Homo sapiens: one gene and its partners. The protein of the gene in region 1 purifies or fractionates together with the protein of each later gene. This does not show direct contact. Each region holds a gene or a part of one and is shown in the gene's direction. Other genes may lie near its edges.

What was found.
Region 2: the proteins of AIM2 (region 1) and RREB1 purify together in Homo sapiens (affinity purification with mass spectrometry; one large-scale study listed by BioGRID and IntAct). This does not show direct contact.
Region 3: the proteins of AIM2 (region 1) and SAFB2 purify together in Homo sapiens (affinity purification with mass spectrometry; one large-scale study listed by BioGRID and IntAct). This does not show direct contact.
Region 4: the proteins of AIM2 (region 1) and ZBTB39 purify together in Homo sapiens (affinity purification with mass spectrometry; one large-scale study listed by BioGRID and IntAct). This does not show direct contact.
Region 5: the proteins of AIM2 (region 1) and LEMD2 purify together in Homo sapiens (affinity purification with mass spectrometry; one large-scale study listed by BioGRID and IntAct). This does not show direct contact.
Region 6: the proteins of AIM2 (region 1) and MOV10 purify together in Homo sapiens (affinity purification with mass spectrometry; one large-scale study listed by BioGRID and IntAct). This does not show direct contact.
Region 7: the proteins of AIM2 (region 1) and BEND3 purify together in Homo sapiens (affinity purification with mass spectrometry; one large-scale study listed by BioGRID and IntAct). This does not show direct contact.

Annotation. Positions count from the first base shown.
Region 1 is NC_000001.11:159,073,508-159,078,652, reverse strand, and holds the start of AIM2 (interferon-inducible protein AIM2), read left to right. Parts: upstream 1-1,886; 5' UTR 1,887-2,020; intron 2,021-2,026; exon of another isoform or gene 2,027-4,466; intron 4,467-5,133; 5' UTR 5,134-5,145. UniProt on the Homo sapiens protein: Sensor component of the AIM2 inflammasome, which mediates inflammasome activation in response to the presence of double-stranded DNA (dsDNA) in the cytosol, leading to subsequent pyroptosis.
Region 2 is NC_000006.12:7,114,047-7,118,517, forward strand, and holds part of RREB1 (ras-responsive element-binding protein 1), read left to right. Parts: intron 1-4,471.
Region 3 is NC_000019.10:5,612,380-5,616,850, reverse strand, and holds part of SAFB2 (scaffold attachment factor B2), read left to right. Parts: intron 1-364; coding exon 365-429; intron 430-515; coding exon 516-719; intron 720-3,323; coding exon 3,324-3,386; intron 3,387-4,283; coding exon 4,284-4,311; intron 4,312-4,471. UniProt on the Homo sapiens protein: Binds to scaffold/matrix attachment region (S/MAR) DNA. Can function as an estrogen receptor corepressor and can also inhibit cell proliferation.
Region 4 is NC_000012.12:57,003,343-57,008,564, reverse strand, and holds the start of ZBTB39 (zinc finger and BTB domain-containing protein 39), read left to right. Parts: upstream 1-2,018; 5' UTR 2,019-2,160; intron 2,161-3,603; 5' UTR 3,604-3,647; coding exon 3,648-5,222. UniProt on the Homo sapiens protein: May be involved in transcriptional regulation.
Region 5 is NC_000006.12:33,782,631-33,786,130, reverse strand, and holds part of LEMD2 (LEM domain-containing protein 2), read left to right. Parts: intron 1-1,611; coding exon of another isoform or gene 1,612-1,638; exon of another isoform or gene 1,639-1,670; intron 1,671-1,703; coding exon 1,704-1,779; intron 1,780-3,500. UniProt on the Homo sapiens protein: Nuclear lamina-associated inner nuclear membrane protein that is involved in nuclear structure organization, maintenance of nuclear envelope (NE) integrity and NE reformation after mitosis.
Region 6 is NC_000001.11:112,684,659-112,688,158, forward strand, and holds part of MOV10 (helicase MOV-10), read left to right. Parts: intron 1-2,307; exon of another isoform or gene 2,308-2,448; intron 2,449-3,500.
Region 7 is NC_000006.12:107,073,628-107,078,098, reverse strand, and holds part of BEND3 (BEN domain-containing protein 3), read left to right. Parts: intron 1-4,471. UniProt on the Homo sapiens protein: Transcriptional repressor which associates with the NoRC (nucleolar remodeling complex) complex and plays a key role in repressing rDNA transcription.

The DNA of each region.
Region 1 (5,145 bases):
CTGGACGATGAGTACTTGTCTCTCTGCCCCAGGTGCAGCAGTGTACCTGCTCCTCATTGAGACCACTTCCCAGCTTAATCACTTAACTCACCTTTTACAGGACCTGAAGCCTCAAATCAGTACGCCTCTCTGGGGTTGGTGCTTGTTGGGTTCTTCCTCAACAGGGAGCTTTCTCTCGTTTACTCAGTAGGTTACCAAATTCATACACTTCACATCTTTTTAATTCTTACATATTGTTCTCTTTGGTGTTCTTTCGCCTTGTGTGATCCACTCATTCATGCATTCACTCATTCAACGAATATTTTCTGAACACCTTCTCTGTGCCTGGCACTGTGTCAGGTGAAGTGGATGCAGTGAGCCAGTGGGCAGAAATCTCTTCCCTCATGTGCCTTACATTTTAGGAGCATGAGGCAGAGAATAAACAAACAAATGACATATACCGTATGTCAGATGATGGTCAGTAACACGTGTGGGAAAAGATAATGTGGGGAAGAGGTAGAGAACATGCTGGTCAGAGAAGCCCCACAGATAAGGTGCTATTTGAGCTGAAAGCTGGCAAAAGTGTAGAAACAAGCCTTGCAGTAGAAAGTGAAGGAGGTCCTGCAGCTCTGGGCTGATTACCTGGGCATGGTTAGGTGCTCTTCCTCTGCTCCTTGAGCATCTTGAGCATGCTTTAATTATAACACTTATCATCATGTCCTATTGTGATTATTAAATCACATGTCTGTTTTCATGACTTGGCAGAGCCGCTCAACATCTGGAACTTTGTCTTACTAACTTTTATATTCTCAGAATCTAATACATCATATTAGATGTTCAGTGCATAATTGTTAATTCAATGAATAAGAAAGGAAAACCTCAAGTAAATTGCTGACTAGAATCAAGCCCTCAAGCTCTGAATTTAGGGTTAGGAGCCTGGGTTAGGAAGAAAGACTGTATATATGCTTTTGAGGCAAGCAGTCAGTGAGGGAATGAGGCATGATTACTTGCAGGTGGCTACAAGCAATAAAAATGCGGTCAAAAAGGTTAGCAGAGGGATTGCCCCACTAGTAGATAGGAACTGTTACAACAGCCTGTGACAATGAAGACAGATTGCAAACTTCCTACTTAGGCACAGATGAGAATGTAACACAGAAGAAACTGGCCGCAACTGGTTAAAGCCAAGATGGTCGAAAACTTGGCTGACTGCTGACCCTTAGCTTCATTATGCCCTTAATATCATAAAACTTCCATGGGGAAATTCCCACTCCCATCATGCACCTGACGCCATGACAGTTCCGGATTAACCATCTTTAGTCAAGAAAAGGGTGGCACCCCGATTCCGGGAATTGCCCGCCCATTTCCCAGAAAACCCCTCCCCTTGATTACAGAGTACTCCATACCTTCATTGTGCTTATTCATATAGTACGTGAACCACATTGCCTGTGACTCAAATCTTTGAGTGCCTGCACTCCTCCCTTGAGGGTGTCGTTGGTTTTGCTCCACAATAAAATGTCTATACTTTCGCTTGGGTCTCATTTTCAGATTCTCTTATGCTTTGAAGACAAGAACCTGCACTGCCCTACTGGCAACACTTTTAGATACCCTCTGAGATCAGTGTGCTTGTTTATACCAGAAAAATGTCATCACCAGGCCCCTTAGTCACAAAGTGTATCAAGAAGTCATCTGCGGTCATTTTTTACAGTTTCTAGGCCACTTTCTGTTTCCAATCAGTGTAGTTCCTATGTGGCATGACTCAGATACAAGTTTCTATAGACATTTTCTTCTGTGGCTGCTAGTGAGAACCCAAACCAGCTCAGCCAATTAGAGCTCCAGTTGTCACTCCTACCCACACTGGGCCTGGGGGTGAAGGGAAGTGTTTATTAGGGGTACATGTGAAGCCGTCCAGAAGTGTCAGAGTCTTTGTAGCTTTGAAAGTCACCTAGGTTATTTGGGCATGCTCTCCTGAGTCCTCTGCTAGTTAAGCTCTCTGAAAAGAAGGTGGCAGACCCGGTTTGCTGATCGCCCCAGGGATCAGGAGGTAAGCACCATAGAGGAGCTGGGTTAGAGACGAGAGACTTAACCGTTTCTCTGCTGAAAAAGACAACTGAGGAAAGGCCAGCCATGCTGTGCACACCTCTGAGAACCTGAACCTGCAAACATGGACATCAGCTCTGAAAGGATGGGTTCATTTCTCTTTTATTCACTTTAGCCATGTCCTCTGGTGTCTCTGAGCTGGTGTTCCTTAAGCTTCGGCTTCCTTTGGGGTTTGTCTATCAGCCTATTTGTAAGGCTGACTTTTATGCCAATAGCAAATACAAGCATTTTTTAAGTTAACAGATATTATGAAGTAAAATGCAAGTTTTTCATTTATAAGGCAACATAACTTCAGAGAAAAAACTGAGTCAATCACATAAAATGTGATTAAAATGTGATTGTTATTATATAAGAGGGTTATAGGAAGATTAGCTTCTTATGGACAAGTAGAAAAGTAGGAATCATCCAAGCTGATTGTCACAGTAGATATTCAACAAAGGTAGTGTCCTTCCTTGCTTTCATCAGTAGGATGGGGGCATTTGGATGGCTTTATCATTGCAAATATTTTTAATGTATTCCTTATTTTGAAAATGGTCCTGATAATAGTTTTAATTTTCACTCATGAACTCTACATGTATAAGTAGAGTTTCTCCAGCGCTTACCAACATATAGGAAAAAACATTATAAGGCCATTAACAGTGATAGTTTAGAATTTATTAACATTGACTCTACTGATGGGGGTATTCAAGCTTCCCTAAAATTCACAATCAGTTATTTTCAGCTCATAAACATCTTTTCCTGTTCTTTGGCTTATTTCTTCCACTTTATATGTTGCTGCTCTGGAAGTCATTAATTGCTAATAATGTCAAACATCTTTTTTATGTTTATTGGATATTTGAGCAAATTGCTCATTCACATCTTTTGCACACTTTTCAAATAGACTGTTGTTTTCTTATTGATACATGGTTCTCCATGTATTCCAAAAGCAAAACCTCTATTAGCTCTCTCTCTCTCTCTCTCTCTCTATATATATATATATAGCAGGTATAGCCATATATATATGTGTGTGTGTGTGTGTGTGTGTGTGTGTGTGTGTGTGTGTATTGCAGGTATCTGCCCAGTTTTTGCCTTGTATAATCACTTTGTTTAGTGTGTGTGTGTGCACGGATGTGTGTGTTTCCTACAAAGAAATTGAGAATATGCATGCAATCACATTTGACAAATTTTTTTTTTCTGGCTTGTCCTTTTTGTGCCTTATTTAAGGAACCTCCTTCTACTTCAATGTATTGAGAAATTCTGTGTTTTATTCAACATCATTACTATTCTATTTAGATAATTAATCCAACCAGATATATATTTTGTGTATGATATAAGAGAAAGGCTGAATATATCATTCCCTGTGTATTGTCATTTGTCTGAACACTTTTTATAGTTGGCCATTCTTTCCTTGTGATTTTTAATGCCACTTTGATTATATACCAAGCTTTAATTTACATGTGGTCCTGTTTCCACACTCTATTTATTAGTTCATTTTTTTCTACGCCACTGCCATACTGATTTAATAATTATACATTTGTAGTAAGTATTGATACCTAGTAGTAGGGATAGTACATCCTGATAAACATATTCAACTTGTTTTGCAGGTTTTTGTCTTTATTTTTTTCATTTAGGTTTTAGGATCATTCTGATAAATTCTATGAAAAACCCTTTGAGATTTTGGATAGGAGTTTATAGATTAATTTGACAACACTGCTGTCTTCATTTTATCAAATCTTCCCATTTAAAATATCAGACATACACCCACTTAAGTAGGTCCTTTAAATCTCCCAATAAAGTTTTATAAGTTTCCCTTTAAAACTCTTAAATATATTGTATTCGATGTTCTTATGTACTTTGTAGTTTTGTTGCTATTGGAAATTACTTTTTTTATGTAATTTTTTTCTCTCTTGGAGTGGTACTAAAATAAAGGAATGCATTTCTGTATATTAATCTTATAGTTATAAACTGTTGAATTATTATTTATAATGTTTTGTGTATTATTTTGGATACTATACATAAACAACTATATTACTACAACGTGATTTTGGCAACAAGTTACAAAAATAGGTTGATGGACAGAATAAAGAATCCAGAAATAGACTCACTCATATTTGGACAACTGATTTTTGCAAAGGTAAAAAAAAAAATCATTAAAAATGACAGTCTTTTTAACATATGATTCTGGGAAAATTCATATTCATATGAAAAATAAATGAACTTTGAATCATCACTTATATCATATACAAATTAACTCAAAGCAGTACATACAGCCAAATGTGAAATGATCAAACCGTAAAATTCTTACAGGAAGACATAAAATCTTCTAATCTTGAGATTGGAAAAGATTTCTTAAATAAGACACTGAAAGCATGATCCATGAAAGAACAGATTGATTAATTGCACTTCATCAGGTATATGTATATGCCAAAATTTATCAGATTGTATACTTCCAGTGTATGCACCGTGTTGTATGCCAGTTATGCCTCGATAAATCTATTTTAAAAATAACAGGAAAATGTATCCTGTTTCCTTTTTGTTGTTGTTGTTGTTGTTGTTTTGAGATGAAGTTTCGCTCCTGTTGCCCAGGCTGGAGTGCAATGGCGCGATCTTGGCTCACTGCAACCTCCACCTCCCAGGTTCAAATAATTCTCCTGCCTCAGCCTCCTGAGTAGTTGGGATTACAGGCGCCCACCACCATGCTCGGCTAATTTTTGTACTTTTAGTAGAGATGGGGTTTTGCCATATTGGCCAGTCTGGTCTCAAACTCCTGACCGCAGGTGATCCGCCCACCTTGGCCTTCCAAAGTGCTGGGATTATTACAGGCGTGAGCTACCGCGCCCAGCTAATGTATCTTGTTTTCTGAGAATTCCAGAGGTGTTGTATACTTTCTGAAGATGTCTTTCCCAGGAGTAGTGATCACCTTGCTTAAGAAGTTCTTACCTATGTCCTACTCAAATCTCTTTTACTACTGCAAATATTTTATTTTTCTTTAAAAAATATTAATAGCTCACCTTGCTTTATTTTGAATGTAGAATCACTTTTGGTGGTGTAATCTTACATGTTTTGGATTCCTTATAGGCTGATCCCAAA
Region 2 (4,471 bases), on another chromosome or scaffold:
TGTTCAGATTGGGGAAATGCAGCACTTTGTTTTTGTTTTTAGTGCTGGGAGACTAACAGGACTAGCAAATTCTTCTTAATGTGGTTCACTTAGGTGAGGCAGAGTCTTGCTGTCGCCCAGGATGGAGTGCAGTGGCACAATCTTGCCTGTCTGCAACCTCCACCTCCAGGGTTCAAGCGATTCTCCTGCCTCAGTCTCCTGAGCAGGTGGGACTACAGGCACACACCACCACGCCCAGCTAATTTTTGTATTTTTAGTAGTAACAGGGTTTCACCATGTTGATCAGGGTGAGGGATGAGTTTTAAGGAAAAAGCTGATGACAAGCTTGGGGCTTACTCTTTGAAGAAGTGGTTCTCAACCTGGTGGGTTTGCCCCCAGGGGACTTTTGGCACTGTCTGGAGACATTTTTAAGTGTTTCTGGTGGGGGGGGGGGCGGCAGCGGGGAGCTGCTACTGGCCTTTAGTGCATAGACCCCAAAGATGCTGTTCCACATCTTGGAGTGCACAGAACGACCCCCATACGTCAGCAGAGCTGAGGTTGAGAAAGCCTGCTTGAAAGGTACAGTAGTCGTGGCCTGGGTCTCATCTACAAGTCCACTGGGTGCGCTGCCTGTATTGCATGCGATATATTTAGAAATCTGAAATTCCATAAAGCAAGTAAGCTCTTATTTGCCTCTGAGGTACCATGGTTGGCAAGTTCGAAGTTTCACAGAAAATTTGGGGTTGAGGAAAATGTTAAGTGGCATTAAATATATTTGAAAACCCCGTAGTAAATGAAAATTCTAGAAGTCATCTACTTCTAAAACAAACTAGATTCATTGGCTTTGTGAAGCTGTTGTGGTCGATGGCTCAGCTTTCCCAGTCACCTCTTCAGTTATTTGGGAAACTTGCTCTGGTGCTGTCATCTGCAGCCTCCTTCATGTTCTAAGTTATGTGGAGTATACCTTTTTTTTTTTTTAAGTGTTTGAACTAGCCCTTACTTGCTTAACAGTTAATGTTTTTGCATTCGTAGTCTCCCTTGTTTTATTTTCTCAAGTTTTTGCAAAATTCTTACATAACCGTCTGCCGTTTTTATAGGGCAGTGTTTCTGAGCCGGGTGCTCTGTCCATACATCTCCTCTTGAGAGGGTGGATGGCTGCCAGCTGCTGTGGTTGGGAGGGATAGGGAGGGAGTAAGGGGATGCAGGGTAGGAGGCGGTGATTATTTTTATGTTAAGGGACCCCAGGCCTCAGACCAGAAATGTCTAATATAGTGTCAGGAGTGATCTTTTAGCCAGCAAGTGTTAACTGATCTGACCCTTGGCCTTCCCCCCCACCCCCCAGCCTATCACACAGACAGGAGGTAAGGAAACCATAGAGGGGAGAAGAAAACAGGGAGACAGAGATCGAATTCCAGAAAAGGAAGGGCTGCCAGTGGTAGGCAGAGTCACCCCTAGAGTGGCCTGGGCTCCCACTTTATAGACATGTGCAATACTTGAAGATAGCTCTTTTTACATCTAAACCAGCGGTTAGTCAGTGTCCCATTGGTGTCAGTCGCACTGATGGTGCTCAGGGCCATTGCTCTGCAGCCACCTTTGCAGTCCCATACGTGGTAACGAGTCCTGTTCCTGCAGAACGCACTCTGCGTTCTGGTGCTTTTCTGTCTTCTCGTCTAACCTATAAACTGCCAACTCCCAACTCTATATCTCCATTTACAACTTCTCCCAAGCTTGAACCTTTTGTCACCCTGATCACCCTGCAAGTACCTTACCCTGCAGGTACTTGTAAAAATGAAAGTCCTCTCCCTTCCTTCTGGAAGGTGATCACCATCCACCCAGCCTTCTAGGCCAGGAGTCTTACTGCCGTCCTGACGTATGTCTGTCCTGCCCCAATGTTCGATCAGTCACCAGGCCCTCTGCAAAACCACACTCCAGTCTGGCCCTGGCATTGGCTGTTCTATCGTTTCTGACCTAAGGCCCTCATCAAGTCACAAACGCCTCCCAAGTTAATTTCCTGCCACCAGTTTCTCCTTACTGCAGTTCATCCTCCACTCTGCTGCCAGAATCATCAGAACTAAAGCCGTGCGTGGTGTTTGCCTGCTTAAAAACATCTCTTGGCTCTCTGTTGTCTACAGGAAGAAATCCAAACTCCTTAACTTGGCATACAAGGAACTTCGTCTGCTTCCAAGCTGAATTTCTAGTCTCAGCTCTTGTCACTCTCTTCTACCCCACTGCCACACTGAATTGATTCTTACTGCCTCCTGTTGCCTGGATTGTTCATTCTGTTGCATCCCCATCCCCTTCCTTCAGCAATAAAAATTTTGTACTCTTTTTTTCAAGACCCAGCTTAAATACTACCTCTTCTATGGAGAATTAGCTCTTCTGTTGTGAGTAACTTTTACCCCCATCTGTCAAGTCTTGTCTGTTGTAATTTATCTCTTAACATGTTTCTCTCACTTCAAGAATATTTTCCCATCTCCTGCACCTAGAACGATTGCATAGTTGGTGCTCACTCACCACTGTGTGTTGATTTCTGATACAAAAATGAGAGTTTCTGAAGATTTTGGAGAATAGCCACATGTAATTTGGAAGCTAAGGCCTAAATAGTGCTACAAATTCAATGAAGGAAATAGACATGAACTAACGATTTCAGCATACCCATCATGCAGAAGGTGGTGCTAGGTGGGAAAGAATTAAGTTCTTTGGTGGGAAAGAATTTTGAATTACAGAAATTCTAAAATAAAAGTTGGCTCAGCTTAATGTAAAAGTGAAAAAAACTCCTTGTTAATGCCTGGTTGCACTAAAAGCTGTCACACTGGGGCCTTTACTAATTATAACCATTTTTCATGGCTCTTGATTTGAAGTTTACATTAAATAGGAGAGATGGGCACACAGATCAAAGACCAAAATCATTTCAGAGCTCCAATGTGTGGGCCCATTTTCTCTGCTTAGTTAGAGTTTTGTTTCATTAGTGGTATGAGTTAATAGGAGTGTTGGTCTGTGTATAATTTAGCTTCTCTTTTTTCCATTACTCGTAGGATTCAAAACAGAATACCAAGCCAGAAATCTACAGGGTATAAATCTTGCTTTATGTGTTTGTATGTGTCTGTGTATGTGCAGTATACACGTGGTAATAGTTGATTTTAGATCATATTTATAAAAATAATCATTTTCACTGTTTTAAGGGAGCTCCCTTTATTCTGACACTTCAGTGTAAAAAACAAAACATTTCTCTGAATATACAAAATCAAAATCTTAATTTTCTCATAAAAGAGGTAGATATGTCTTCAGAAATAGGGGAGATAACCAGGAAGATGGGGTGGGTGTTCTGAAACACAAAGGTGAACCATGTGAATAGGTTTCCTGTTTTTTTTTTTTTTTTTTTTTTTTTTTTTTTTTTTTTGAGACGAAGTGTTTTACTCTTGTCACCGAGGCTGGAGTGCAATGGCGCAGTCTTGGCTCACTGCAACCTCCGCCTCCCAGGTTCAAGCGATTCTCTTAGCCTCCCGAGTAGCTGGGATTACAGGCGCCTACCACCACACCCAGCTAATTTTTGTATTTTTTTTAGTAGAGATGGGGTTTCACCATGTTGGCCAGGCTGGTCTTGAACTCCTGACCTCAGGTGATCTGCCCACCTTGGACTCCCAGAGTGCTGGGATTACAGGCATGAGCCACCGCGCCCCACCAGATTTCCTTTTTAAACAATGAATTTTTATTTTTTATTTTTTTGGAGACAGGGTCTCTCTATGTTGCTCATGCTGGTCTCAAATTCCTAAACTCCTGGGATGGAGCAGTCCTCCTACCTCAGCCTCCCAAAGTGTTGAGATTACAGGTATGAGGTATGAGCCACTGAGCCTGACATGAATTTAAAAAAGCAAAAAGAAGAAAATGACATAGTGTGTGGAAGTTCTTGGTATTTTTTATACAAGATGAAATCCTGGTTGATTAAAAATATATTACTATAAATATTTTTTAACAAGTGCTTATCTGCTAACTAGAGTTTAGGCTCAGATTTGGCAGATACATTCAGATATAATATTCTAACGTAGTTTTATTTATCAGGAGGCTCATATATTTTCCTCTTCAATACAGAAAATAGTTTTTTGTTTTCTTTTTGAGACAGAGTCTTGCACTATCTCCCAGGCTGGAGTGCAGGGGTGGAATCTCAGCTCACTGCAACCTCCACATCTTGGATTCAAGCGATTCTCCCACCTCAGCCTCCTGAGTAGCTGGGATTACAGGCGCATGCCACCACACCTGGCTAATTTTTGTATTTTTAGTAGAAACAGAGTTTCACTATGTTGGCCAGGCTGGTCTCAAACTCCCAACCTCATGTGATCTGCCCGCCTTGGCCTCCCAAAGTGCTGGGATTACAGGTGTGAGCCACCGCTCCCGCCCAGAAAATAGGTTATTTTAAAGTCAGTTTTTCCTTTGCTTTAGGAATTTTAAATGTTTTGGAGGATAATTTTATAAAACTAGTGAACATCTCAAACAG
Region 3 (4,471 bases), on another chromosome or scaffold:
GTGAAACCCCATCTCTACTAAAAATACAAAAATAAGCTGGGCATGGTGATGCACGCCTGTAGTCCCAGCTGCTGAGGAGGCTGAGGCAGGAGAATCGCTTGAACCCAGGAGGTGGAGATTGCAGTGAGCCGAGATTGTGCCGCTGCACTCCAGCCTGGGTGACACAGGGAGACTCCATCTCAAAAAAAAAAAAAAAAAAAAAAAAAAGAAAACAAATTGAGACAAAATTACGTGTGACAGGAGAGGGGAGACTTATAGTTTATCTTGTAATGTGTTCTGTTCTAAGATTGAAATCTATTCTGCATAAACTAATTATGAGGTAGAACTTGAGTGTTATCTGATTGAACAATTATTCTGTAATTAGGACTGAAGATGGAGGAGGAAGGCACAGAAGATAATGGCCTGGAAGACGATTCCAGAGACGGGCAGGTAAGTGATGTCAGGGTAGAGATGACAAGCAGCAGCTCCCTGTCCTGGTCCAGGTGGTCGTTAACGATTCTTCTTCCTCTTTACAGGAGGACATGGAAGCAAGTCTGGAGAACCTGCAGAATATGGGCATGATGGACATGAGTGTGCTAGACGAAACTGAAGTGGCGAATAGCAGTGCTCCAGATTTTGGGGAGGATGGCACGGACGGCCTTCTCGATTCCTTTTGTGATAGTAAAGAATACGTGGCTGCACAGCTGAGACAGCTCCCGGCTCAGCCCCCAGAGCATGCTGTAGGTAACTTGGAGACACGGCAGGATGTGCCCATAGCCCCGAGGCACCTGGTGCTCGCGTGCTGCTCGTGTGAGGGAGAACACAGCTAAACCGCCATGAACACACAGTTCTGCTTCTACACCCTGGTGTTAAACCATGTCCATTTAAACGCTGTGTAGCTCAGGGATTTACTCATAGATAGCTTTTCTGTAGCACTGGGGAGTGTTTTTATAATTCGAAGCATGTGGTGAGTCATAAAATAGAAAGCTCTGACATAAAAGATTTTTCTTTTCTGAGATGAGGTCTCAACTGTTACCCAGGCCGGTCTTGAACTCTTGGGCTCCAGCGATCCTCCTGACTACCTGGGCTTATTGGCACAGGCCACAGTGCCCATTTAGTTTTTTCCTTTTAAAATACAGTTTTAAGAAGCAAAGATGGTTTATTTATTTAGAGACAGGGTCTTGCTCTGTTGTGCAGGCTGGAGTGCAGTGGGGTCATCATAATTCACTGCAGCCTCAGCCTCCCAGGTTCAAGCAATCCCCCTGCATAACTGAGACTACACAGTGAACCACCACGCCCAGCTAATTAAAAAAAAATTTTTTTTTTTTTAGAGGCGGGATCTCACTAGGTTACCCAGGTTGATCTTGAACCCCTGAGCTCAAGCAATCCTCCCGCCTCAGCCTCCCAGAGTGCTGGGATTATAGGTGTGGTCCACCGTGCCCAGCTCAAAAATGGTTTCTAATCTCATCATGTAGATATTCCTCCTAATGTTGTGTTTTGTTTGTTTGTTTGTTTTTGAGACAGAGTCTCTCTCAGTCACCCAGGCTGGAGTGCAGTGGCAAGATTATGGCTCACTGCAACCTCCGCCTCCCTGATTCAAGCAATTCTCCTGCCTCAGCCTCCTGAGGAGCTGGGACCAGAGGCATGCGCCACCACGCCCAGCTGATTTTTTTATATTTTTAGTAGAGATGGGGTTTCACCATGTTGGCCATGATGGTCTCCATCTCCTGACGTCGTGATCTGCCCGCCTTGGCCTCCCAAAGTGCTGGGATTACAGGCTTGAGCCACTGCGCCCAGCCACTTGACTAATTTTTTATATTTTTGGTAGAGATAGGGTTTCATCATGTTGGCTGAGCTGGTCTCGAACTCCTGACCTCAAGTGATCTGCCTGCCTCGGCCTCCCAAAGTGCTGGGATTATAGTGGTGAGTCACCACGCCTAGCCTGTTAATGTTGTTTTAAGCAAGGTTAAGCAGTTACATTAAAAGATGTAAAGTACAGTGAAGACAAGTATCAACCCTGCTCCCCAAAAGGACTGACTGTGAGCATCCTTGTATGTAAAGGAGGAACTTTGCTCTGTTAGGGCTTTCCCAGCTTTTCACTTCTAGTGTTTTGGCGTAGAGCTCTCTGGTGAGGCTGTTCAAATATCACAAGCTGTCAGTGTCTTCGAGCTGATCTTCATTGTACTCTGACTGATGTCACGTGCCCAGTAGGTTGTTTTGTTTCCTTAAGGCATTGCAGCTTTCAGCTTGGGGGTGGAAATGCCTCCATAGGACTGAACCTTAAACCTTACGGTCAAAAGTCATTGCCTCCAAATTTACCATCCTTTGACCTAGGGCAGCACTGAGCAACTGGTTAGCCGCCTTTCTCAGTCTGGTACTGCTGTGTGCTTATTGTTTTCAGAGTGTGTACTTCTCAGTTAATGGAGGCATCCCAGGTCATGAGTTCAAATCGAGAAAAGGAAAAAAGAAAATATTTGGGAGTGCTGTTTTTGTAGTTCACTTAAAAAGAGCTTCAGATTTAGTAAAACTTGGTGTTAACAGTTTTTCTTTTGTTTGGCATGTAGTAAAGAGAGAAATTGACCAAGTTAGATGTTTGTTTTTAATAAAGTAGGCTAGGCGGGCCAGGCGCGGTGGCTCACACCTGTAATCCCAACACTCCGGGAGGCTGAGGTGGGCGGATCACCTGAGGTCAGGAGTTCAAGACCAGCCTGGACATGGTGAAACCCCGTCTCTACTAAAACATACAAAAAATTAGCCGGGCGTGGTGGTGCATGCCTGTAATCCTAGCTCCTCGGGAGGCTGAGGCAGGAGAATTGCTTGAACCCAGGAGGTGGAGGTTGCAATGAGCCGAGATGGCGCCATTGCACTCCAGCCTGGGCAAAAGGAGTGACACTCCGTCTCAAATGAATGAGTGAATGAATGAATGAATAAAGTAGGCTAGGAGAAAGTGCCCGGTTAGTGTTACCTTAAGAGTATTGCTACCAGGTGAAATTGGAGGGGTGCATTTTATCATTTTGAGTTCTGCTTTGGAAATCCTGTGATTGGAGGGGTATGTGGTAATCACCAGTACTTAGAAACTGCCTGGGAAATTCATTCGTTCATTCACCCAGTACAGACAGGGCATACCCACCTGCAGGCCACTGCCAGAGACGCTGGTGGAGCAGAGTCGTGGAGTGTGTGTTCTGGCGGAGAGGCAGGTGCTGAACTGAATGACCCAACAGTAGACTTGCAGATGGCAAAAGGTGCCGTGAGGGAAATAGACACACAAGTTGCCTAAGCGAGGTGTCAGCCTTGGTTTTCATAGCTCCAGCCTCCACGAAGTCATCTTCCATTTTGTTTTTCAGGTGGATGGGGAAGGATTTAAGAACACTTTGGAAACTTCATCGTTGAACTTCAAAGTAACTCCGGTAAGTTACCATCTGGTTCTGCATCGCTGGAAATGTTAATCGAGTGGTTGATTTTCCATAATGAAAGAGCAGTGTGTATGTGTATGGAAATGACTGGATACTGTGCTGGATGCTGGGGTTAAGAGGTTAGCAGAAGAGAAACAGTCTCAGGGCTGGCCATCTAGCAGGGGCAGTGGGATCAAACCAAATATGTAACCAGAAGGGAGAAAGAAGTGTGATGAGGGAGCAGTTCTGGTGGTTGGACTTCATAAGTGCCTGGAACTCTTCCCAGAGGTCTGACGGATAGGTTGAAGAGGGAAAGAAGAATTTGGAGCAGAAAGTTTGGGTGGTGTCTCTGATGCAAAAGAGAGAGGGGAGCACACAGGGTTGGATAGAAGCCAGAGGTGTTGCAGAGCAGCTGGGCCCGCCTCGCTGAGTCTGGGCCACCAGAAGGATTGGACCTATTGTCCTAAGTGAGACAGATGTCGGAAAAGGTTTTCAGCAGAGTAGAGAGATCATTTTGTTATGACAGGTTTCAGTTACAAATCAGTTTATGTTGGGAGAAGTATTTTTTTCTTAAATCCACTGTGACCTCTTCTCTGACAAAGGGGGTGTTTGCCAGCTGCAGCAGCCACTAGGTCAGCTTGGTCATGGGGTGGGTGGCATGGCAGGGCAGGGCCCAAACTCGGGAGAATGGGACAGACTGTTATCACTAGGGACCTGCTGTTACCAGGGAAACTGTTAAAATGAGCTGGTTTTCATCAGGTTATTGTAGGATGGAATACATTTTTTGGAGACAAGAAAGTTTTGTGGAAACAGGCATTTATTCACAGATGATTGAAAGCCATATTTACTGGTGAAATGTATGTGCCCCGTGTTTAAAGTGACTTGTGGATTTGCTTTTTCTTTTTTAAATAGGACATTGAAGAATCCCTTTTGGAGCCAGGTACTGATAAGAGAAACACGACAGTTATGGTTTGAAAGTTTTCACACTATTATTTTAAAGCTGTCTATATTTTAAGCTGTGTTATGATCTTGTAAATTGCTCTAATGGTGGACAATCCAGATCATACAAGGATCAGAGATTGGAAACCCATTCGTATCAC
Region 4 (5,222 bases), on another chromosome or scaffold:
TTATGTCAGCTTTATAGCCAGAGGTCAAAGAATGCCCCCACCCCAGAGCCTAGACCCTTTTTCCAGTGAGTCATCTCTTTGACTTTTCAAAATTATCTATCTATAGGGCTTAAAACTGGGGACACTTTTGCAGAGTCTAGGGGCTTTCTCTGGGTCATGAAAGCTACAAGAGTTGGTTCTGCTCAGACTTGGTGGGAGTTAGGCTTATAGGCTGAGATGAGACAATTGCTTTGCAAGTAGGAACATTAAGTGCAGAAAGATTGCTCTCTAGTGGGACTGACAAAAATTGCAGTACTGGGGACTCCAGAAAAAAATGAAGACAAATGTTAAGTTAGATTCCTGTGTTTGTACTTGAAGAATGTGTGAAGGGATCCTGACCCTCCCTTTCCTGTTGTAAAACAGTTGATGCCTAAAGAGATCTGGTCCACAAGACCTTGACTAAATTCCTGGCCCTTTCTTCTCCATTTAACTTTGTATATGTTTGTTATTGTGACTATATGGTGATTTACTTTAAAAAGACTTCAGTATAAGTGGTATATACTTTCACCTGCGTCTTTTGGATGATTTGTTTTCATGTGAAGTTTATTGGGGTCAACCCTCCAGAGATGGCTGGGGCAGTTGGTTAGAAAGACTGTATAGGCCCAGGCCCTTGCAAGCCCAGCAGCCCTCTGTCTCCAGAGTCATGCTGGAGGTCTGGACCTGCTGGCTGTGTGATATTCCACTTTAGGGAGACTCAGTCACCTTGCACAACTGTGAGAGCTGGGCCTGCCACTGAAACATTGTGTCAACCTCTAAGTGACCCTTTCACTAGATGGTAAAGTGAGATGCCTCATCCCCAAACTATAAGAACAGTTCTATGGCTGTTTTTGTATCTCCTGGCTAACAAATGTTACATGTTTGGCAGCATTTGGTATAGTGCTTGCTTTCAGTATAGTCTGCCACCAGTTAATGAGGTTGTGGAAAGGAGGACACACAATCTCCCAAATTCATCAAGAGAATGGACAATTGCTGAATGGCCAAACTGGCTTAGATCTGTTGGCAACATTCAGTGTGTCCCTTCCTTTCCACTTATCCATCAAGGAATTACTGAATCCTACCATGCGCCTGTCCTGGGAGTTTGTCCTTGGCTGCAAGCTATTTTCAGGCAGTGACTGGGATGGGATGGGAGAGAGGATGAAACTGAAGGGTCTTGGAGCCTAAGAGCTTCCTCTGTACTGAGGGAGGGAGGGCGACATGACGAAGACTTCTAATGTCTTTGGTGGTGGTGGGTGGGGCAGGCAGTGTAGGTGGTTTTCGTTTGATGACAATTCTTGGGCAGAAGCATTTGAAAAGATGATTTGGGAGAAGGGTGGGGAGGAAGAGTGATCGAGTTCTACACAGAGTTGGGGAGGGCAGGCTTCAGGAAGCAGGCCTGGGGTGCCAAAGTACAGTGAGATCCGGTGACTTTCTTCATTTGGCCACCTAGATGGAAGGAGGGACAGCAGTGGATTATCAGAAGGGTCCAGTAGTAGCGGTCTAGCCCTCAAGTGCTCCTTCATTCATTCAAGCAGGCTTAATGTATTAAGCACTTATTGTGCCAGGAAGTGTGGTAAGGGTCAGTGTGGACCTGCGGCCGTGTGCAAAGCCACAGATCCCTGCCTTCAGGAAGCCCACAGCCTAGTGGAGGAGATATATAGTAATCAAACAATCTTACAACATTTTGTAAAATGCCCATAGTAGATGTTCTGAGGAGAAGCTTTTGGAACTGTGAGCGTAGAACAGGGGAGGTGAAGAGAGTTTGGATAGGGTTTTTCACTCTTCAGGCACCAAGTCCCGCGCACAGTGGATGGGCGCTTAGAAAAAGCCAGCCTGGGGACTTGGAAGCCCCTGCACCCCTCGCGCAGGTCCTGGACCCGGCCCCGCCGTGGGGGGGCGCTGCCTCCTCCCGGGCGGCGGGGGGCGCTGCGGCCGGGCGGCGGGGGGCGCTGCCTCCTCCGGGACGGCGGGGGGCGCTGCGGGCCGGGCGGCGGGGGCGGCCCGGGCCGTCGCGGCGAGCCGCGCGGCGGATGGAGAGTCTGGCCGCGGCCGGCGGCGCCGCCTCCTCGTCGGGCCGGGCACGGCGGGCCGGGGCCTTTGTGTGAAGCGGCGGCGGCGATGGTGCTCGGGGCGCCGCAGAGCCGGGTAAGCGCGGCCAGGCCGAGGGCTGCCCCTGGCCGAAGCCCGACCTTCGGCCCGGCATTTATCTCGCTCTTGCTGGGGTCCCTCTTGCCCGCTCCCTTCGGCCGGACCCATCCTCCCCGCCCGCGCGCCGACCCCGGCCGGCCCCGCCGCCCCTCGCTTGGCCCCTTATTCAGCCCCATGCCCCCAACAGGCTCACCCGGGTGAGCCCCGCGCTGTTTGTGGAGGGACTGAGGCGCTCGTTGCCTCCAGAGGGAGCGCCCCAGCCGATGCAGCGCCCTTCCCTCCCAGATGCGACTCCGGAGGGGAGACCGCGGCGCCCGGGGATTGTTGGGGTGTCCTTGGAAGTTCCCAGCTTCCCCCTCTCCCACCCTCTCCTCTGGCTGCCCAGTGCTCCGACCCGCCCATCGTTCAGGGGTGGCCACCAGGGCCCGGGAGATGCTTGGCCGGTACCCCACAATACTTAGACGCTTCCTGGGCCCCAGAAAAAGTTGGGAGTTGTTAGAATCTGGAGAGATGGAGAAAGGGGCTGTGTTGGGCAGAGTTGTGAGACTGAACAGGGATGCAAGTAGCTCTTCTTCCTTAGTCGTGCAGGAGTCAGAAAGGGCAGAAAGTGGTAGTGAACAAGCCTCTAGGAGTCTTACCTGTATAATTAGAAGTCTTTCTTGCGGCATCAAGTAAATCTGTTAGTGCAGGGACAACAAAATATAAACCCCGAAAAGGGTGGCGAAAAAGAATACAACATATTAAAGTAATATTAAATACTACCACAGTTGTGTTCTACTTTTCTTACTGTGCATTCTGAGTGTTTTAACTTCACAGAATACAGGGACTGTGATAAAGCAATATCTGGAGGGGCTCTGGGTTATCGAAAGGCCAGAGAGCGGGTATGTAGTATAGGCAGAGAGAGATGGGGATTCAAGAACGTGAGATTTATTTGGAGATTATTGAGAGGTTGAAGACACAGCAATGACAAAGCTAAAAAACGGAACCACCTTATATGTTCCTCAGTAGCTAGTGGAGCTTTGATAGTTGTGTTCAAGCATGTGCATGGTATTTGGCATCATGAGGGAAAAGAATATGCTCAATGAATTAGGAAAGCTTGTATTTGGGAGGAAATTAATAGGAGAAAAATTTGATCCAGTGGCTCTGGTAATGAAGTATAAGATTGTGTCCAAGGGAATGCCTCTGGTTCGTCTCTAGGCACCAGCTTAAAACCAAGCTATCAGATTGTCATCAGTCGTTTTGGTTTTTGTCATAACTCTTTGAGTATATACAGGGGGAGATGTCATTGCCTTGTCATAATGGAGGAACTCTCCATGCCAGTTTACTCCTGATCCCTACCTGGGGCTTGGAAGCATTCAGAGTGATGGTATTTTCTCCTGCATAGCCCCTCTTTTGCACGGATGTGTTTGGCCATCCATCTTTTTCTCTTGCTATCCACAGATTAACTGTGCTGATAAGGAGGTAATTTCATAGGAGCTGCTAAGATGGGCATGAGGATCAAACTGCAAAGCACCAACCACCCCAACAACCTGCTGAAGGAACTCAACAAGTGCCGGCTCTCAGAGACCATGTGCGACGTCACCATTGTGGTGGGGAGCCGCTCCTTCCCGGCCCACAAGGCTGTGCTGGCCTGTGCAGCTGGCTACTTCCAGAACCTCTTCCTGAATACTGGGCTTGATGCTGCCAGGACCTATGTGGTGGACTTCATCACCCCTGCCAACTTTGAGAAGGTTCTGAGCTTTGTCTACACTTCAGAACTCTTCACAGACCTGATCAATGTTGGGGTCATCTACGAGGTAGCTGAGCGTCTGGGTATGGAGGACCTCCTCCAGGCCTGTCACTCTACCTTTCCTGATCTGGAGAGCACTGCCAGGGCCAAGCCCCTGACCAGCACCAGTGAGAGCCACTCTGGTACCCTGAGTTGTCCTTCGGCAGAACCTGCCCATCCCCTTGGAGAACTCCGAGGTGGTGGGGACTACCTTGGTGCTGATAGAAACTATGTGTTGCCCAGTGATGCTGGAGGGAGCTATAAAGAGGAAGAGAAGAATGTTGCCAGTGACGCTAACCATAGCCTGCATCTGCCGCAACCGCCCCCACCACCGCCAAAGACAGAAGACCATGACACCCCTGCTCCCTTCACGTCCATTCCTAGCATGATGACCCAGCCACTCCTAGGCACTGTCAGCACGGGCATCCAGACCAGCACGAGCTCCTGCCAGCCATACAAAGTTCAAAGCAATGGAGACTTCAGTAAAAACAGCTTCCTCACCCCTGACAATGCAGTAGACATTACCACTGGGACCAACTCCTGTCTGAGCAATAGTGAGCACTCCAAAGATCCTGGCTTTGGGCAGATGGATGAGCTCCAGCTCGAGGACCTGGGGGATGATGACTTGCAGTTTGAAGACCCTGCTGAGGATATAGGCACAACTGAGGAGGTGATTGAGCTGAGTGATGACAGTGAGGATGAGTTGGCTTTTGGAGAGAATGACAATCGGGAGAATAAGGCCATGCCCTGCCAGGTGTGCAAGAAAGTTCTAGAGCCCAACATTCAACTGATCCGGCAGCATGCTCGGGACCATGTGGACCTGCTGACGGGCAACTGCAAGGTCTGCGAGACCCACTTCCAGGACCGAAACTCCCGGGTAACTCATGTCCTGTCCCACATTGGTATTTTCCTTTTCTCCTGCGACATGTGTGAAACTAAGTTCTTTACCCAGTGGCAGCTGACCCTTCACCGACGGGATGGAATATTTGAGAACAACATCATTGTCCACCCCAACGATCCCCTGCCAGGGAAGCTGGGTCTCTTTTCAGGGGCAGCCTCCCCAGAGCTGAAATGCGCTGCCTGTGGGAAAGTATTGGCCAAAGATTTCCATGTGGTCCGGGGCCACATCCTTGACCATCTAAACTTGAAGGGCCAGGCCTGCAGTGTCTGCGACCAGCGTCACCTTAACCTCTGCAGCCTCATGTGGCACACGCTGTCCCATCTCGGCATCTCAGTCTTCTCCTGTTCTGTCTGTGCGAACAGCTTTGTGGACTGGCATCTTCTAGAGAAG
Region 5 (3,500 bases), on another chromosome or scaffold:
AGAAGATATGGGGCAGTAAATTTTCAGGTCTTAAATTGTACCAGGAGGAGTCTTGTGCTGCCAGAGGGCATGACTTAGTAGTCTAATTAAGTGTGCAATGCCTGGCCTCCCAAGTCCTTAGTTAACATCTCTAGTAGCCCAGGGGCTGGGAAAGAAAATGACGCATGGTCCTCTGGCCAGCCCTGCATTGACTGTCTTACTCATGTAAATGAGGGGGCATCCTGGTGCAGATAACGGCTTTTATTTCTCTTTGGCTTCGGGTGTGTCATAGTTGGGGGTGTTTTATTACATCCATTTATTGGATTCATCCACCAAATATCTTTGCTTCCCAATTGTTTTGTAAAAACAGATTCATAGTAAGTTTAATCTGCCTTCTATCATAAAAACTGTAGTTGATGATGAGAGGAAGTGGCCCAGAAACACAGGCAGCCAGAGGGGAAACTGGAATTTGAAGACTTAAAACAAAAACAGGAAAAAATAACTTTCTGTAAGACTTCTCAGTGCTGTTAGTTTTGTCTTTTAATTAGAAAAAAGTTCCATGGTTTCTATTTCTTGGTCCTTCACATCTCTAAATGAATCAGACCCACAAGTGAATGGCACATTTGTTCCCTGGCCTTCTCTGATCTGGACACACTCAGGCTCCACTTGAGTGAGCCCAGACAGGTACCCTCCAGGTCCTAGCTACAGATGCGCTCCGTGGGCAGACGGCATTCAGCACCTGCCAGCGAGGGCTTCAGACGCAGATATCCCTATTTGTAACCATTCAGACCTTCATCAGAGCATCAGAAAGCAGGGGCTGGGCCATCTCAATGCAGGCTTTGTGGAGCTAAGATTTCATGGGGCACCCTTGGCCTTTCTGGAGGGTGGACACAGGAACAAGCAGGTGGGGACGTGTTTCTTGGCTTTGGTGAGGCTCTTGCTGAAAGTCTTATTCTTTGCATGGCTCCAGGCTTACCGAGATCACAGACGGGCATTTGAATTTCAGATTCATGTTCTTTCCCTTTTCGGTCGTTGAAGACGGTGACACTTTGTGTTTTTCTTTCTGCCTTTGTGCTGCTGAAAACGTGGGGACAGGCTGGGAGTGGGTGTGTTGTCTTAATCAGGCCGTCTCGTTGTCTGGTACCGTCTGTCCTCCTGTTTCCTTTAGGTGGTAGCAGCCTCTGCTGAGTGGTTTGTGTGAGTTCGCACTGAATCCTACCACAATCCTTACTCAGATGAGGGCTCTGAGATTCCACCTAACGGGAGACGAGATGGCAGCTGCTGACATTCTGCCCTGTCTGCAAGCTCTCCTAGCTCTTCCAGCTCTCCCATCTCTGCAAACTCCGACAGCAGTTGCTCTTCCTCTGAGGAAGCTGAGCGACTGCATCATCCCCCGACCACGTCGCCTCTGCTCAGCCCTCTTAATGGCCGTCATTCCAAGGGAAAGGCAGGAGCCAGGAGCCTCTGGGATGCAGCCCCTTGGTTACAGTGTCTGCTTTCAGCTTTGCCTCTGCTTCTCCAGGGTCTTTCTCAGGCAGTTAACCCAATATTTATCAACTCTCTCCCTAGGCCCAGCACTTGGCAGAATTTTTTTCTATTTTGTAAAAGTATGAGATATTCCTTGCTGTTTAGTATTTGACAGTGTGGCTGGAGAAGTAAAGATGGACAGACGGACCCCTCCCACCCACCCCTCCTTGCTGACCACTTGTCCCGTGCCTTTCCAGTTCTGTCAGGCCAAGCAGAAGGCAGCCTTGCTGGAGCTGCTGCATGAACTCTACAATTTCCTGGCCATCCAAGCTGGTGAGTAAGTCACGTAAGTCCTGAGATTCCTCTTGTGAGAGCTATGGGCGGCTGACCCGGTTCATCAGGCTTAGTTACACTGCTGCTGGCCAGCGAGACACTCCCTGGTTGTCTCTCAGAAGGCATATTCAGAAGCCGAGTCTCACCTTCTCGCCTCCTCACTCAGGCACATCTTTTATAAGCCTTGTGTTTGAACAAAACATATTTGATTCTTGCTCCTCTTTAAGGGAGGTCCTGGCATGTGAACAGGCCTTCCTGCAGCTGTTCTTCCTTCTTGGGGATGCCCACTACCTAATGCTTTGGGGGTCTCTGTTGGCATGGGAAGGGGCCAAGCCCCAGGTGTTGTCAGGATCTGTGTCCTTCACCCTAGAGGGACCCTCTGAACCAGGTGGTTGGCTGGGCCCGGGAGAGGCCTCTTGCCTGTGCAAGTAGCAGATAGTCTGTGTAGTGGGCCCTGGTGTCACATCTGGTCCTGATCACCATGTGGCTGTGGGACCTCGGACAAAGTCCCTGATCCTCTCAGGGTCTTCATCTCCCTGTCTGACCAAGGGCTCTTGGGTCTGTCTGTTCTCTACAAATGAGAGTCAAGTGCTGTCCTCTAAAGGAGGGCATTCTCAGCACCTCTGTGAAATGCCCCTGAAAATGCATCCAGAAGATGCATCCCCTACTGTTTTATTTGGTGAAGTTATTCCTTGAGGCCAGAGATACCACCTGCATTATTATGTCCTGCCCGACGCCTGGCATCCAGGAGGCTCTCAAAATCACTTGCAGTTGACATAGGTGAATATCAGCATGTGCGCCTTGTGTTAAATGCGCTGGACACAAGAACCAGACAGAGCAGTTCTATCTTAAGGGATATTCAAGAGGCGCCTCTTACCTGTGGGGTCAGAGGACAGGTCTTAGGATTGTGAGGTCAACCCTTGTCTAAGGTTTCACTGGGAAATTAGGGTCGGGTGGACTTCTCCTGGGCCCTCAGTCCTCAGGGTCAATCTCATGAGCATCAGCTCTTCTGCCTCCTCCCTCTTGAAAGTGAGAGATGAGATGGTAGGGGAGGCATCCATGAGCACTTGGAGGAGAAACAGGTACTGGGGCTCCTGCTCACAGCATCATAGGAATTCCTCTGTACGGCCCAGGTGCTTGGGATGTCAATTCTGACCTAAGAGAGTGTTCCAAACCTTTGTGTCTCAAATGTGGTCCAAGGACCCATAGCATCTGCATCACGTGGGAGCTCACTAGAAATTCAGAATCTCAGGTCTCATGCCAAACCCAGTGAATCAGAGTCTGTATCTTAAGATCCCCAGGGGATTTGAGTGCACCCTAAAGTTGAGAAGCACTGCTCGAAATTGGGTCCTAGTAGATATTTCTCCTCCATCCTACCCTCCATATGTGGTCTTGCCTTATGCCCTCAAGGGCCCTGGCACCTGTTGCCCTCCGACAAGCCTGGGGGGCCGCCTTGAAGGTACATATCTCATTGAGACAGGAGTGTGCCTCACAGAGGCTCCCTAGTAGTCCTCAACCCCTTCCATGCCTCTCCTGTTAGGGATCCGCTGTGGGCTGGGCACTGTGCAGGCCCTTGCAGTGAGATGACTCAGCTCCAGGTCCTGCCTGCAGGGCCCAACCCCGGCTTGGGGTCTACTGGAAGAGACAGGCCACCTACCTCCCTGACCACTGGGTGATATAAAATGTGATTAGACAAGAACCAAGAGGCCAGAAGTTCTGGG
Region 6 (3,500 bases), about 46 Mb from region 1:
ACCAGCAATTTATGAGTTCACTTTTCCACATACCCATTATAGTAATATATGCTAGAACTATGTTCATTTTTGTCAGTCTAATGGGAATAAAATAATATCTCATTTATACTTTAATTTGCATTTCTCTACATTTGGAGCAGTTTTTCATACTCTTTTGGCCATCTGGATCTGTTCTTTTAATTGAATATTCGATTTTTCTGTTGAATTGTTCATCTTGTCAATTTGTAAGAAAATTTATATATTATAAAAATTAGCCCTTTGCCTGTCATCTGCATTATGAGTATTTATCTGGTATTTATCTGTTGAATGTGTTTATATTACCTTTTGCTAGAGAAAATATTTTTTAGTAGTCAGAAATGTTTGTTTTCTTTTTTAGAGACAGGGTTACCCAAGCTCTGTTAACCAAGCTGGAGTGCAGTGGCGTAATCACAGCTCACTGCAGCCTTGACCTCCTGGGCTCAAGTGATCCTTCTGCCTCAGCCTCCTGAGTAGCTGGGACTACAGGTGTGCACCACCATGCCTGGCTTTTTTTTTTTTTTTTTTTCACTATTGCCCAGGCTGGTCTCAAACTCCTGGGCTCAAGCAGTCCTACCACCTCAGCTTCCCAAAGTGTTGGGATTACAGGCATGAGCCACCACACTTGACCTAGTTTTATTTTATAGCTGCTGGTTTCCAGTCTTGGTTAGAAAGTTTTTCTTAGAAATATAGGGGATTACGGCCGGGCACGGTGGCTCACACCTGTAATCCCAGCACTTTGGGAGGCCGAGGCGGGCAGATCAGGAGGTCAAGAGATTGAGACCATCCTGGCTAACATGGTGAAATTCTGTCTCTACTAAAAATAGAAAAATTAGCTGGGTGTGGTGGCGTGCACCTGTAGTCCCAGCTACTTAGGAGGCTGAGGCAGGAGACTCACTTGAACCCGGGAGGCAGAGGTTGCAGTGAGCCAAGATCGTGCCACTGCCCTCCAGCCTGGTGATAGAGCAAGATTCCGTCTCAATAAAATAAAATAAAATAAAATAAAATAAAATATAAAATAAAATAAATATAGAGGATTACATGTATAATACAAGGATTGGGGCTTTTTTCCGACAAGAATATAATAAGTTTGTGATTTTTTAAAAATAATTTTTGTATGACTGTTACCTAGACCAATGTTAGGTGAATTTGGGTAGTGATGAGAGACATAGAGAATAATTTGAGAAATATTTAGGGATAGCATCTGCAGTAGAATTTGGAAATTTTACAGAGATGAGTTCTGTCTGCCCTTGTGCCATGCAGGTTTTCAAAAATAGGAGGTTTCATGTTAAAATTTTGATTTTGTCTTTTCTTGAAAGTCAGATCTGGCCATCCGGGGCCTGCATTCCCTACTGGCCCCGTTCGAAGATAAGCAGTTACCTGCTTCAGACAGGGCATGCACTTCCCAGTTTGTTCAGTCCCCACAAAGCCCTCTTTCTGCCCAGCATTGATCTGGGAGCCTGGAGCCACTTTTCTTGGAGGTTGCACTTTGTTTTCTTAGCGTTGTGAGGGATATGCATGCAGTATTCTTACACTAGTGACTCTCAAAAATGGACTGAACAGGTGTCTGAAAGGGCTGCAAGGATCAAGATACCTGTGAAGCATAGCTGCTGTAGGCATTAGCTTGTGCCTCGATCCATGGGACTTTGATGGACTCTAAGAAGCCCTTGTGAAAGTTACTGATGATCTCCTGATTTCAGTCCCTGTATTACTGGACCCCTCAGCAGCTTTTGATCCTGATACCTGATTTTGAGACTTTGCTGATTCTCCTTTCTCTCTTGAGGGTTTCTTGTTTTCCCTTCCTCCCCGGGTTGTGCTAGTAGCTGCTCTCAACTACTCACACTCCCTGGGGAGATTCCTACACTTCCTTGATTATAACCACTACCTGGGGACTCCCTAATACTAGGCTGTAACCTTGACTTTGGCCTGAGTTCTCAGCTTCTGACTCGTGGAGCTGGTTGCCTCTGGACCACAGGAATCTCAAACGCATCATATCCAAATCCAAATGTCATGGTCAGTCCCTCCAACCCCTCCTCCTCTTGTCTTACATCCTATCTCAGAGATAGTCCTAGAAGCCAGGCCATTGATTTGGGGATCCTAGACTCATCCCTCTTCCCAGCCTTCATTCCCCCTTCTGTCAGTCACCAAATTTCTGCTAATTTTACATTCTAAGTATTAGCGAATCTTGCCGCTCTTCTTCTGTATCTCTACCCACTGCCTTGCTCAGGCCTTTGTTATCTTTTAACTGGACAATTGCAAGGGCCTTCTTCTAACTGGTCTCCCTGCCTACAGTCTTGCCTCCAGCAAATCCATCCTCCAATCCTGATGCCAGAGTGATCTGAAATGCAAATATGATCTTGCCACTCCCCTGCTTAAAACCCACCAACCGCAGTGGTTCTGTAACCACAGTGTAGCCTCTGACGTGGGCTGAAAGTAAGTTGTTACTACTCCTACTACTACTGCTACTATTAGTACTACTATTTCTACTAATATAAATACTAACAATAGTAGCTAACATTTACTGAGCATTTTCTATTATGCTTTTGAATGATTTATTACCTTTTTAAAACAAATCATAGCCAATTCAATGTTTTCCAAATTGTACCAGTCTCATTTGCTTGGGGTGAAGGAGAGGGGCAGAGTTACAGGCAGCAGGCACCTGAAAAATACTCATAACCATAAATGATCTTATCACATACCCTAGTGAGTGACCATGATGATTTAGCCTGAAGAGTTAAATAGGAATTACCATAGTCCTCATAAACAAAGATTTGCTTTTAAGGGAGGGTGTCAGTCATCTAGATCTTGAATATGTCCCTGAAGTATGTGGCACGTGGGAATGTCCTCAGGCTCCTGGGTATCAGTAGAGCGGGGAAAACGACTGCAGACATGCAGAGTCAAGTCCAGGCTTGGCCTGTTGTGCAAAACTGTCCATGATCTGGTCCCTGCCCACCTCTGCTCCTCCTGCCACTCCCTTCCTTGTGCATTTCACTCTAGCACAATGAAACTGTATGTGATACTAATCATGGCTCACCCTTACTGAGGTCTCCTATGTGCCAAGCACTGTGCTAAGTGGTTCTCTGCCGTGTCAAAATCTCATGTAAACCTCACAGCAACCCTACGAGGTAAGTCTCGCTTTCCTCCAATTTTATAGAGGAGGAAAGCGAGGCTCTGAGAGGTGAGGTCAACTGAGCTGACCTGGCTAGAGTTGTCAAGTGGGCCGCCCCCCTCTGCCCCTCCCTGCACATGTTCTTGCGTACCTCTCACATCTGCTTACACTTCGCGCTCCCTCTTGTGCCCAGGTAATGCCCACTCATCCTCAGGACTCAGTTCTTATGCTGCCTCCTGGGAAGGCCTTCATGGACACCTCCTCTGCCCCCAGACTGGGCTCAGTGTCCCTCTGTGGCACTGAGCCCCTCTGTGGCCGATGAGCTGCCCTCCAAGCACCACGCTGGAATGTATATGTTCAGTCTGTGTGCTCCTCG
Region 7 (4,471 bases), on another chromosome or scaffold:
ACCTCTGTTGGAGAGGACTTCGTAGCCAAATACAGCAGATGTGGGAGGTGCATAGCCAAAGTTTTTATTGGTAATCATCTTTTTGTTCACAGAAGTGGGGCAGTGTTCAAGAGCCGTATGCCAGGCAGAGGTTAGCTTTGTTCTCCTGGGGTTTTTCGTTTATTTTTTTAAGTCCTAAAATGTCTCTGTGGTTTGTTTTTCATTTGGAAAATGGAAATGGCATCTCATGCAGTGCAAATGCACAGAACACCTCCTGAGTGTCAGTTACTGTGGTGTGAGCCGAGGATTCTTAAGAAGTCTCTCAACAACTATCGCAGATAGGTACATTCCCATTTTAATGAGGCTCAGATAAGTTAGCACTACCAAGCCTGCGTGATTCCGAACTGGGCACTCAAACATCATGCTGGTGGGATACTGGGATATTTGTAAGATGCATGAGAAGCCTTAGGTGCACTCATATCTTGCTAGGTCTTCTGTTCTTCCTCTTTTCCCTTCATTATAGTTGCTTTATCTCCCCAGAATCTTGTTTCTTCGGCCATCTTAGCACATCCTTCACCCTTACCATATAGTGTTGGCAGCAGAAGGATGACCCACAGAGTAAGAGCCGTGAGAGCAGAGACTGTGTCTGGCTTGATCCTGGGAGGTCACCGTATTGATGCTGAACTTAGTGAGGGGTACCACTGGGTTGCCTAAGGAGGGGTGAACCGGCTCAGGTCAGAAACAGAGCAGGTCAGAACTCCCCTGCTGATCAGTAGTGGGGTCACGCCTGTGAACATAGGCAACTTAGTGCAGCCCTGTCTCTGATTTAATTTAAAAAAAAATTGTTTTGGCCAGATGTGGTGGCTCACACTTGTAATTCCAACACTTTGGGAAGCCAAGGTGGGCCGATTACTGGAGCTCAAGAGTTCGAGGCCAGCCTGGACAACATGGTGAGCACATTTAAAATAGGATTTTGTGCAGAAAGAGATCATTAGAAATTCATATACTGTGCAACAAGAGTACATGTTCTAGAGGGAGACCTGCCCTAATTAATACCCAGGATAGAAAAATAAGTACAGGGTCTCTACTAAAAATACAAAAAAAATTAGCTGACCATGGTGGTGTGTGCCTGTGGTCCCAACTACTTGGGAGGCTGTGGTGGGAGGATAACTTGAGCCTGGGGAGGGTGGGGAGTGATGGCGAAGGTTGCAGTGAGCCAAGATCACATCACTGCACTCCAGCCTGGGCAACAGAGTGAGATCCTGTCTCAAAAAAAAATTTGATGATGATGATGAAAATAATAATGTTGAAAATGAAAGTGGTATAAGCATCATTCATGCGACTGTGATTCCAGGAGGGAGATGCCAGCCCAACTGACCACTGTTTCACATGGCCTCTCTGCTTCCCCAAGCCATGCTGCTTTCTGAGTGTTCCAGCGTGCTGACTCTCAGGGCACTTTTGAGCCACTCATTCATTGAACTAAATTCAGTGACCACTCTTGGATTTGGGGTTGCGATGAAGACGTCTAGCACTTGGAGCATCTCCAGGGTGTCCCACTCCCTGGGATGTCACTGGGCATGGACACCTGGAGTCTCCCTAAATAGTCTATTTACCCCTCACTTGTAACCCAACATCAGCTTCTTTTTGTTCAGTCAGATTCTCCAGCTGAGAGATTTGGGCATTCTCTCTGGGTTCTACGGGTGCTGGTGGCTGAATGAAACGCCCTGATCAAGATCCGGGCTAGACGCTGGCATTGCAGAGCCTGAGCTGTACAGCAGAGTTCCCATATGGTTGGAAGACGAGCCTCAGAGAATTGGGAATGTGTCAGCCAGTCCTACCCAGTGCCAAGTAGCACAGATTTAAAGATTTCTTGATACTCCTAGACAGCTGAGCCGAGATTTTATCATCAGCCACAAACGCAGCCAGCCCATTGCCGCCTTGGCAGCATTTGTGGAATTAATTGGAGCACTGAGCTGACAGGACACCAGTGTGGGAGTATCTAAGAAGTTTCTCTTCAGTGCTTGTGTTGTGTTCTGTGTTGAATTGTGTACCCAAGGTTTCTGGGAGTGAATATTGCCCTCTACTGGGACACTAACATTTTTAATTCAAGCAATCTAGCCAAAAATGTTTCTGTTGACGGCAGTGTTTCTAACATGCTTGGTGGAAATGGAAATATTTGTATTAATGAGGCTGAATATTGAGAGTTATGGGGGGTTTCCCAGTTTCAATGTACTCTTGCCTCCCACCTGCTGTAGGAATGTGAGGGAGTCAAACCTTGTGTGTGTTGTTGGTATTCAAATAATTCACCAGAAACTTTTCCCTGTACTCATTTCTCCCCTGGGCAAGTCTCCCTCTAGAACATGTACTCTTGTTGCATGCTATATACGTTTCTGATGATCTCTTTCTTAGGAAATTCTATTTTAAATGTGCTAATGGAACCTTATTTTAAAGCAAAGTCTCCTTTTCTAAAATCACTCCTAATATAGTTATGATTTGTAATTGTTAGTACTCCAAACCCAAATTTCTCTCTATTGGTAAACCTTATAGTAATCTTATAGTCCATGGGACCTCTAAAATTATTTTAGTGTAATAGAACTAAATGGTGAATAAATTGCCAAAAATTTTACTTTACATTCTACAGGAATTAGCAAGTAAGGCACTTTGTATTTGTTAGGGCAATGGTTTTCCACAGTGACCCACAGTTATAAATCACCTTATAGAGCAATACAACTTACCTGTATGAATTTGTAAATAAGTATTTAGACATACACATAGTAATGAAACAAAACTCTTAACTTGATTTACTTTGTGCAGTACACTTTGATATTTTCTATTCTTTTTGCTTTCTTATTTCCTCCTTCCCTCCCTCTTTATTTATTTATTTATTTATTTTTGAGACACAGTCTCACTCTGTCGCCTAAGCTATGGTACAGTGGTGCAGTCACAGCTCACTGCAACCTCCACCTCCAAGACTCAAGTGATCCTCCCACCTAAGCCTCCCTAGTGGCTAATCCTTCCCTCTTCTTTTTTTTTTTTGAGACGCTCTGTTGCCCAGGCTGGAGTGCAGTGGCACTCACTGCCACCTCCGCCTCCCGGGTTCAAGTGATTCTCCTGCCTTAGCCTCCTGAGTAGCTGGGACTACAGGCGTGTGCTACCACTCCCAGCTAATTTTTTGTATTTTTAGTAGAGATGGAGTTTCACTGCGTTAGCCAGGATGGTCTCAATCTCCTGACCTCGTGATCCACTCACCTCAGCCTCCCAAAGTGCTGGGATTATAGGCATGAGCCACCGTGCCCGGCTCCTCCCTCTTCACGATCCACCAAAATCAGTTATCATCTACTATCCCACAATTTGAAACACTGCATTAGGGGTAAAGGTTTTCAGCTATCTCCACCCCTTCCTTTCTGGTGTGTGTATATGTTTTCTTTTCTTTCTTTTTTAAAGAAATAATGCCAGATAACAGAACAGAAGAAACATAAAGGGCTTAAATTCCCAGCCTTTAGGACAAACAGACCTCTAAGAAGTGCCTTCCATGAGTGACTTACCCTGAGGCACTGTGGGAAAGTCCTTCTCAGTGTACTTGAGAGTGTCATTACAACTCCCCTAATAAAAGTCCCCTACAGAACTACCTCTGCCATGGCTTGGGAATAGCATTACGTAATAATAAATCATATTGTAATAATAAATTTTTATGTATTTATTTTTGAGACAGAGTCTCACTCTGTTGCCCAGGCCAGAGTGCAGTGGCACGATCTTGGCTCACTGCAACCTCCGCCTCCCAGGTTCAAGCAGTTCTCCTGCCTCAGCCTCCCGAGTAGCTGGGATTACAAGCACGCGCCACCACACCCAACTAATTTTGTATTTTTAGTAGAGATGGGGTTTCACCGTGTTGGCCAGGCTAGTTTCGAACTCCTGACCTCAAGTGATCCACCCGCCTCGGCCTCCCAAAGTGCTGGGATTACAGGCATGAGCCACCGCACCCGGCCATAAATATTTATTAAGCACTTAGTGTGATTCAGATAGACTCAGTGCTGTGTGTGCACTGTCTCCTTAAATCCTCACAACCACCCTGTGGGACAGGTAGCATGATTTACCCTGAGTAAAGGAAGGTGAGGCTTACAAGGTCACAAACAGAATGCTTGCTGATTGAGCTGAGTTCTTAGCCACACCTTCATGCCAGTGCTCTTATCAGAACAGCTCCTTTTCTTTTTTTTCTCCTTTTCTTTTTCTTTCTGAGACAGGGTCTTGCTCTGTTGCCCAGGCTGGAGTGCAGTGGTGTGATCTCAGCTTACGAAGCCTCAATCTCCCAGGCTGAAGCAATCCTCCTACCTCAGCCTCCCGAGTAGCTGAGACTACAGGCACACACCACCACTCCCAGCTTATTTTTGTAGAGGTGGGGTTTCACCATGTTGCCCAGGCTGGTCTTGAACTCCTGGGCTTGAGATCCCCTGCCTCAGCCTCCCAAAATACTGGGATTACAGGTGTGAGCCAC